2 linked regions of the Homo sapiens genome follow. Changing the gene in region 1 together with any one later gene gives a genetic interaction. Each region holds a gene or a part of one and is shown on either strand. Other genes may lie near its edges.

What was found. A genetic interaction does not mean that the proteins touch.
Region 2: changes in KPNA4 (region 1) and STK11 together harm fitness more than expected from each alone (negative genetic interaction), as found in Homo sapiens cells (one large-scale study listed by BioGRID).

Annotation. Positions count from the first base shown.
Region 1 is NC_000003.12:160,562,772-160,567,054, forward strand, and holds the start of KPNA4 (importin subunit alpha-3), read right to left. Parts: upstream 2,801-4,283; 5' UTR 2,512-2,800; coding exon 2,443-2,511; intron 1-2,442. UniProt on the Homo sapiens protein: Functions in nuclear protein import as an adapter protein for nuclear receptor KPNB1. Binds specifically and directly to substrates containing either a simple or bipartite NLS motif.
Region 2 is NC_000019.10:1,212,278-1,215,777, reverse strand, and holds part of STK11 (serine/threonine-protein kinase STK11), read right to left. Parts: intron 1-3,500. UniProt on the Homo sapiens protein: Tumor suppressor serine/threonine-protein kinase that controls the activity of AMP-activated protein kinase (AMPK) family members, thereby playing a role in various processes such as cell metabolism, cell polarity, apoptosis and DNA damage response.

The DNA of each region.
Region 1 (4,283 bases):
GGCACTATGAATTTCTAAACAAAACAAAACAAAAAAACCTGGCTAATGTCAATATATACTTATTTTTTAAAAGTCACACATCACAATATTCTTCTAATACAGCCTCAGGACTTAATCTGATTTTGACTAAAGTGCCAAAAGATATGAGGTAGGAGGAAACATCAATTTAAAAAATAAGGATAACTTCAGAAAGTCTGGCAATTCCACCAAAGGTTCAAAGTAAGTTTCCATATGATCTAGCAATTCTATTCCTAGGTATATAGCCAAGAGAAATAAAACATACATCCACACAAAAATGTTCTTAGTAGTATTATGTAAAATAGCTAAAAAAGTGGAAACAATGAAAATGTTCATTAACTGAAGAAGGGATAAATAAAATGTGGTATATCCATGAGCTGGAGGATCATTGGATCATTCGGCCATAAGGATCATTCGGCCATGAAACATTGATACATTCTTGTTACAACACGGATAAACCTTGAAAACATTACACTATGTGAAAGAAGCCAGTTAAAAAAGAGCACAAATTGTACAATTCCATTTATATGGGATGTCCAGGATAGGCAAATCTAAGAAGACAAAAACTGGTTGCCTGGGGCTGGGGTAGTTGGGAATTGGAGAGTGACTGTTAATGAGTACAGGTTTCTTTTTGGGGCCGTGAAAATGTTCTAAGATGGACTGTGGTGATGGTTGCAAAACTGCGAATACACTAAAAGCCACTTTAAGTGGGTGAATTGTATGGCATGCGAATTACATCTCAATGAAGCTGCCAGAAAAATGAAGCCAGAAATGTAGAGGAAAAAAGGGTTATAGGGATCTGTCAAGCACCTAATTGCTATTTTTCTGGATTCTGTAATTTTGTGGTACTTACCAGTTTTTAAGTTTTATCATTTGTGATTTTTTCTCATTCTAAGTATTCATATTAGTAAAAAACATTTTCACCACATTCTTTCATAAACAAGTAAATTTACTGAAAAATCATTGTTATTTAAGAAGCTCATTTTTATGGCATGCAAATTATCTCAATAAAGATGTGACATCTTTGCATTAAAAAAAGGGATCACAATGGTAATATGTTAACCTTAAAAGAACCACAGAATTAACATCCCTGGACACTTAGTCGTCCCTCAAATTATGAAACCCACTAAAACGCTTGAACTACTTTAAAGATAATATTAACAGCTTTGTAAAAAGCCCAAAAAATATCTCAGTCAAGCAGACTCTCAAGTTCAGAAATGCCATGGGAAGTTGAAGATTTCATTATGAAAACGTACCGAGAACAACATAAAAAATACTGCTTGACCACTTTCCCTAAAAGCTAAACTCGTGATTAAGATGCAGAAGGGAAGTATTAAATCTATTTATCTAAACTCTTAAAAGCTGAAGGGAAGAAGTCTTCTATCAAAAATCTCAGTGGGGTGTGTGGGTATGCGTGTGTGCATGTGTGTATTTAACCCATACACCTTATGTAGACAATCTCGGGAGCAGCTGTATCTAAGACAATGAAGCTTTTTTTTTCCTTTTTAAATAATCAAACGTGATGGTGCCATTCCCTAGCCCACCCCATCCCCCACTACCACCACCAGCAGGTGGAGGGAAAGGATACTGTAGACTAGAGGATGACAGCTTTGTATAACCCTTTAGACTTTATATGTAAGAATGCAGCTGGTGGTCTCCTCTCAGGAGGGGGTAAAGAGATTTGTGGACAAGCTGAAATAAGGGGTATCCTTTGCCTGGAAGAGGGCACACCGTGAGCCACATCTTGAATCAGCTATATCCAGAGTAAAACACAGGCCGCTGGAAGGCACTGTTAGGATCACCAGGATGGCCTCTCACGCCGGGGGTGTTTTTTTCAACGGAGAAGTTGTCCTGTAGTTTGGATATTGGGGGGAGGCAGGGGTAAAGCGGGAGTCGGGAAGACCAGAAAAAATGCCTTTAAGTGGAGACGCCTCGGGCCTCGCTGAGGAAGTTCAGAGCCCCACTCGGTCGCCACACGCTCACCCTCCCATTCCCACCGCCCTCCTTCCCGCGGCGCCAGACGTCGGTGCCCGAGCGAGAGCCGGAATCTCCGCCACTGCCGGGGAAGGGGCCGCGGCCCGGCCGGGGCAGCACCGGCCGCACACGCACGCCTCCTCCGCACGCGCCGCGCCCGGCCTCCCCGCCGCGCGGCCCGGCCCCTCGCACCCGCGCCGGGCCGGCTCCGCCGGGCAGGCCTAGGCCGCGCCGGCCGTACCCGGGCACCTCGCTCCCCGGCGGAGGCGGAGCAGGCCCGACATAAACTTCCCGGCGCGCTAGCAGAGGCGTCACAGACGGGCCGGCCCCTAGCGCCATTCCCCGAGGCCTGGAGGCGGCTCCCGCCCCTAATCCCCACACTCGGGGTCCCGGCGGAGACCGGCCCCAGGCCCACAGCCCCCACCCCTCCGGCGTCGTCCCCGAGTTTACCTCCAAGTCGCGGCCTTTGTTCTTGAAATTCTTGAGCCGTTGGTTGTCCAGTTTCTCGTTGTCCGCCATGGCCGGGCCGGTGACTCCTTCCCCCGCCCGGGCCCCGCGGGATCCGCCCCAACCAACGCGCCGCACCGACACTCCCAGGAACCGGGCCGCCGCCTGAGCTGCTGTGCCCGCCGCGCCGCCGCTTCCTTCCTCCTCTCACCTGCCTCCGCCGCGGCCTTCTCCTCTCCCCGCCCGCCCCCCCGCCCTAACCCCAGCGCGACTGCAGCTCCGGCAAAGACAACTGTGGGGCCGGGCGGCGGCAAGGCGACGGAATGTGCTGCCGGCTGAGAGGGGGAGGCAGCCTCGATCTGAGGGCCCCGGCGCTGCGGCCACGCCCATCGCCTCCAGCCCGGCTCGCCCATTGGCTAACCAGGCTCCGGTGCGTTCGACCAATCAGAAGGGGCGATGGAGAGCCGGGGCGGAAAGAGCGAACGGAAAGGGGAAGCGAACGACGCTGGGAGGAGCCGGCTCCGGGCCCGGAGGGGTGCGGCGGGGGCAGGCGGGGAAGGACCACGTGCCTTCGGAGAGAGGGGTTGGAAGCAATAGAGAAGTAGACTTAAGGGGAAACCAGCAAGGGGAAGGAGAGGCCCGGGAACGCAGCAGGGCGAGTTGTTTTGCTCCACTCGTCCAGGAAGCCCTAGATGCCGGGGGTTCAGGGTCGAGGCTGCGTTAAAGTAACGTTCTTTTCTCCCCGGGCGCGCCCTGTCTTCCTGGGCATTCCTTGCGCTCTCCGTTCGCTTTGCAGAGAGATCTGAGCTTCGCTGTCTCCCGGTCGGACGCTCGCAGCTGCGTTCCCGGGCTGGGGCTCCGTGCCGTCCAGGGCCGGGTCTGGGGGCCAGGACCTGCTGGGATGACGTGAGTTGAGGAGGCTCAGCGGAAAGCGACAGGAAAGGTGGGTGGAAAAGGAAAGGGCCCATTAGACGAATCTGATTCATCTTCTGTGACTAAGCACCCGCAACAGTTAGGAATTTAGGCAGAGCTGGTGATCCTGGGACAATAGCACTTCCTAGGTAATTCGTCTTAAAAAGTTAAAGAAGCTGCTTGACCACAAAGTATGAACTTCTGGAGGGCGGGGCCCGTGGCAGCTGACAGGGAATATTGTGTGTTGAGAAAGGAAATGAGTTCCAAGGATACCAAGGACAACGTTACCAGAGGCAGAAATGACACGAGATACAAAAGAACGTATTCAAAAATTTAACAAAACAGAAATGGAAAATTATTTTAAAATATATTGAAATATCAACGAATAACACCTCAAATGTACAGGGATATGTAAAGCAGCAACTCGGGTCGGAAGCAAGGAATCGAGGCGTTGGGTGTGTTTAAACTTGACGAGGTAGGGAGAAGAGACCCTGATACAAACTCCTTCAGAATCGTTGACTCTCGGTCCTTTCTAGTATATTTTTTTAGTAGAACAACGTGCAGATAAGTGTTTAAAATGCAGATCTTCCTAAGGAAACACTTTTAAAGGCAACAGAGGGGAATTTTTTTTTAAGTTAAAATGGAAGAAGTTAGTGGGTTTAACAGATATGAACAACTGAGTTTCCTTTGGGGGAGAGGCAATGAAAAGAGCCGGAGTACTTTAGGGATCACTTTGGAGAGGATATTGTAGTGGGGGAAAGGAAGGTAAAAACTTAGGAAGCAGAGTAGTACCTTTAAAGTCGTCAGTACTTTATATACCATCAACTGGGCTATGGACAACAGAAGCTGTGCCTGGAAATAACTCACACTGAAGGTTAACTTGAATATAAATTTAGAACAGATCTTAAATACAAATGATGATGTTCATTATA
Region 2 (3,500 bases), on another chromosome or scaffold:
GTGACAGAGCAAGACTCCATCTCAAAAAAAAAACTTGGGGTGTCAGGGGTATCCCACGACCCAGCCTTCCCCACCCCCAGCTCAGGGCTGCCTCTTGCAGGAAGCCTTGGCTCACCTTTCCCTCCCAGTGCACCAGTCCCAGGGCTCATTGCTCACTGCCCTCAGGGCAACCTCAGAAGGCCAAGGCCTGAGCTCTGCCAGGGCTGCAGGCTGTGCTGGGGCTGGGCCTGGACAAGGGGCCGCCAGTCTGGGGAGGGGCTAGGAGAGCAGGATGAAGGGAAAGCAAGGTGTGATGGGGACGGGGCACAGAGGGACACAGTCCCCCAGAAGCGGAGCCAGTGAGCAACTGGTTCCGGCCCCTGGCTGTGCCCGGTGCCCTGTCGGGCTGCCCAGCCCTGAAAGCGTCCCCCACTTCCACTGGTCACCGCAGGCCTGGTCTGCTCGCTGAGAAGCCCTGTGTTTCCGTTCTCTCTGGGCTATGTGGTGGTGGCACCAATTCCCAGCAGGGCCCGGCAAGGTTATTTATAGAACTGGCCAGGGCCTGTGTCCACAGCCTGGCAGGCACCCAGGGCATTGAGGGGGACGCTGAGGGTGAGGCTGGGCTCGGCAAAGGCCCCGGGGCCCAGCGCCTTCCTGCCTGCCAGGCTGCTCAGGAGAGCTCGGGGTGGGCCCGAGAGGCCCGGCTCAGCCCCAGATCCCCTTGTTCCCCAGGGCTCTGTGTGCCCCTAACCTCCCCCGCTGATGAAGGTCACAGGCCATTCCTGGGAGGCAAGACTTGCCTTCTATTCAGAGGAGATGCGGTGGCCGGGGGGCGGGGAAGGTGCTGTTTTCAGACAGCAGAGGCCAGATGCTCGGACGCACAGGCCCCAAGAGCCTGATGCTCCACCAGGAGGCGAAAGCACCCCCTCCCTCAGCAGGAGCCGGCTACCGGCAGGGAAGGTGGCCCAGGACACTATTCCAGCCTCCTCAGTGGAGCTGAGGGAGCCACGGGCCTTCAGGTCCAGCACCGCTCTGGCCCACCTCCTGCTGCCTGTGCAGGGACCACCCCACACCCACCCAGGCTCCAGCACAGTCCTAACCCTGAGGAGGGGCAGTGAGGCCAGGAGCTCAACCTGCATGCAGCCTCAGAGCCTCGTGGGGGCCGCTCGGGAGGCTGCACGGCCCTAAAAGCAAATGAGGGTGGAGGACTCCCTCCTGGAAACCTCCCTGCGCCGGCCACCACCTGCCGACACCATGTCTCCTCCATGAGCCATCATTCTACAGATGGGGAAACGGGCACAGGAGGACTCGCCCTCACCGAAGGCGCCCTGCCCTGCCTCCACCTCAACGGGGACACTTCACAGCAGCAGGACACACAGCAGCTGAAACGTGGAAGAGCCCAGGCACTCCTGAGCAGGTCAGCATAGACCAAGGGACACTGGGTTGTCTGTTTAATTAAAAGGGACCAAGGCATTCTGCGCAGGCACGTGCGTCCCCCGATTTATGCCAGGGGAGGAGTGGGGGTGGAGCCACCCCCGCCTGGTGGCAGTCACCTCCGGGATGATGGGTGCACATCAGCTTCTCTAGATCGCCAGGCTTCCTCTGACGTCTCCAGCCAGAAAAAGAGCAGAAGAGGAGGCCCAGCGAAACCTAAGAGCTTGGCGAGGAACAGGAAGAGCCTCCAGGAGGGGGAAGCCCGGCTCTTGGGGCATCGCCAGCCGCTCCGAGGTGCCACGTTAGGGGCCTACTGGGCTTGCCCAGGCAGCATGGACTGTTTAGCTGACTTGTTGATTAGCAGGACAGGAAATAGGAAGGAGAGTCATAAACGCCACTCAAGCTCACAGAGAGGTGGGGCTAGGAGCCTCCGTCTGCCTAGAAACAGATCATACAGGGAAGAGATGGGCCTGGCCCTCGCCCCGGCCTCCCACGGCTCAGAGCAGGACTGGGAGGCACATGGAGACCCAGGAACACCCAGCTCCAGACCCGCGTGCCCTGGTCCCTGAATCCCTCCTGATGTGGCTGAAACAAGGCCCTCAAGGATTCTAGAGGGACGCCGGCTGAGCACACGTGCACCAAAGCAGCCACAATTCACAGGCAGAGGCGGGAGCAGCCCAAGTGTCCAGCCACAGATGAGCAGTCAAACGCAGCGTGGCCCTCCACACACTGGAAAGTGACGCAGCCGTGAACAGCAGAGAGGTTCGGACCCAGGCCACGGCGCGGATGCCCCTTGAGGACAGCACACTCCGTGAGACAAGCCGGACGCAAAAGGCCACGCGGTGTGTGACACCACTCGTGTGAAATGTTCAGGACAGGCCAATCCAGAGGCAGGAAGGGAATGCGTGGGTGCCGGGACTGGGGAGGGAATGGGGAGTGATGGCTGACAGAGACGGGGTTTCCTTCTGGGGTAACAAGAATGTTCTGGAAGCTGATAGAGGTGATAGTTGTGCAACTCTGTCAATGTACTATATGCCACTGAATTACACACTTTAAAAAGGTGAACTTTGCCGGGTGCGGTGGCTCACACCTGTAACCCCAGCACTTTGGGAGGCCGAGGCAGGCAGATCACGAGGTCAGGAGATCGAGACCATCCTGGCTAACACAGTGAAACCCCATCTCTACTAAAAATACAAAAAAATTAGCCGGGCATGGTGGCAGGCGCCTGTAGTCCCAGCTATTCGGGAGGCTGAGGCAGGAGAATGGTGTGAACCCGGGAGGCAGAGCTTGCAGTGAGCCAAGATCACGCCACTGCACTCCAGCCTGGGTGACAGAGCGAGACTCCATCTCAAAAAAAAAAAAAAAAAAAAAAAAGGTGAACTTTAGGCCCAGTACTATGGCTTACACCTGTAATCCCAGCACTTTGGGAGGCCAGAGAGGATTACTTAAGGTCAGGGGTTCAAGACCAGCCTGGGCAACACAGCAAGCCCTTGTCTCTATAAAATAAAAAATAAAAAGGTGGGCCGGGCACAGTGACTCAAGCCTGTAATCCCAGGACTTTGGGAGGCCGAGGCGGGCGGATCACAAGGTCAGGAGATCGAGACCATACTGGCTAACACGGTGAAACCCCGTCTCTACTAAAAATACAAAAACAAAATTAGCCAGGCTTGGTGGCAGGCACCTGTAGTTCCAGCTTACTTGGGAGGCTGAAGCGGAGCTTGCAGTGAGCCAAGATCGTGCCACAGCACTCCAGCCTGGGGGACAGAGCGAGACTCCGTCTCAAAAATAAATAAATAAGTAAATAAAGGTGAACGTGGCGAAGCAGTGGCTCATACCTGTAATCCCAGCACTCTGGGAGGCCCAGGCAGGCGGATAGCTTGAGTCTAGGAGTTTGAGACCAGCCTGGACAACATGGCGAAACCCCATCTCTACAAAAAACTAGTCGGGTGTGGTGGTGCACATCTGCAGTCCCAGCTACCTTGGGGGCAGGAGGGTCACCTGAGCCCAGAGCTATGATTGCGCCACTGCACTCCAGCCTCGGCGATACAGTGAGACCCTGTCTCCAAAAAAAAAAAAAAAAAAAAAAA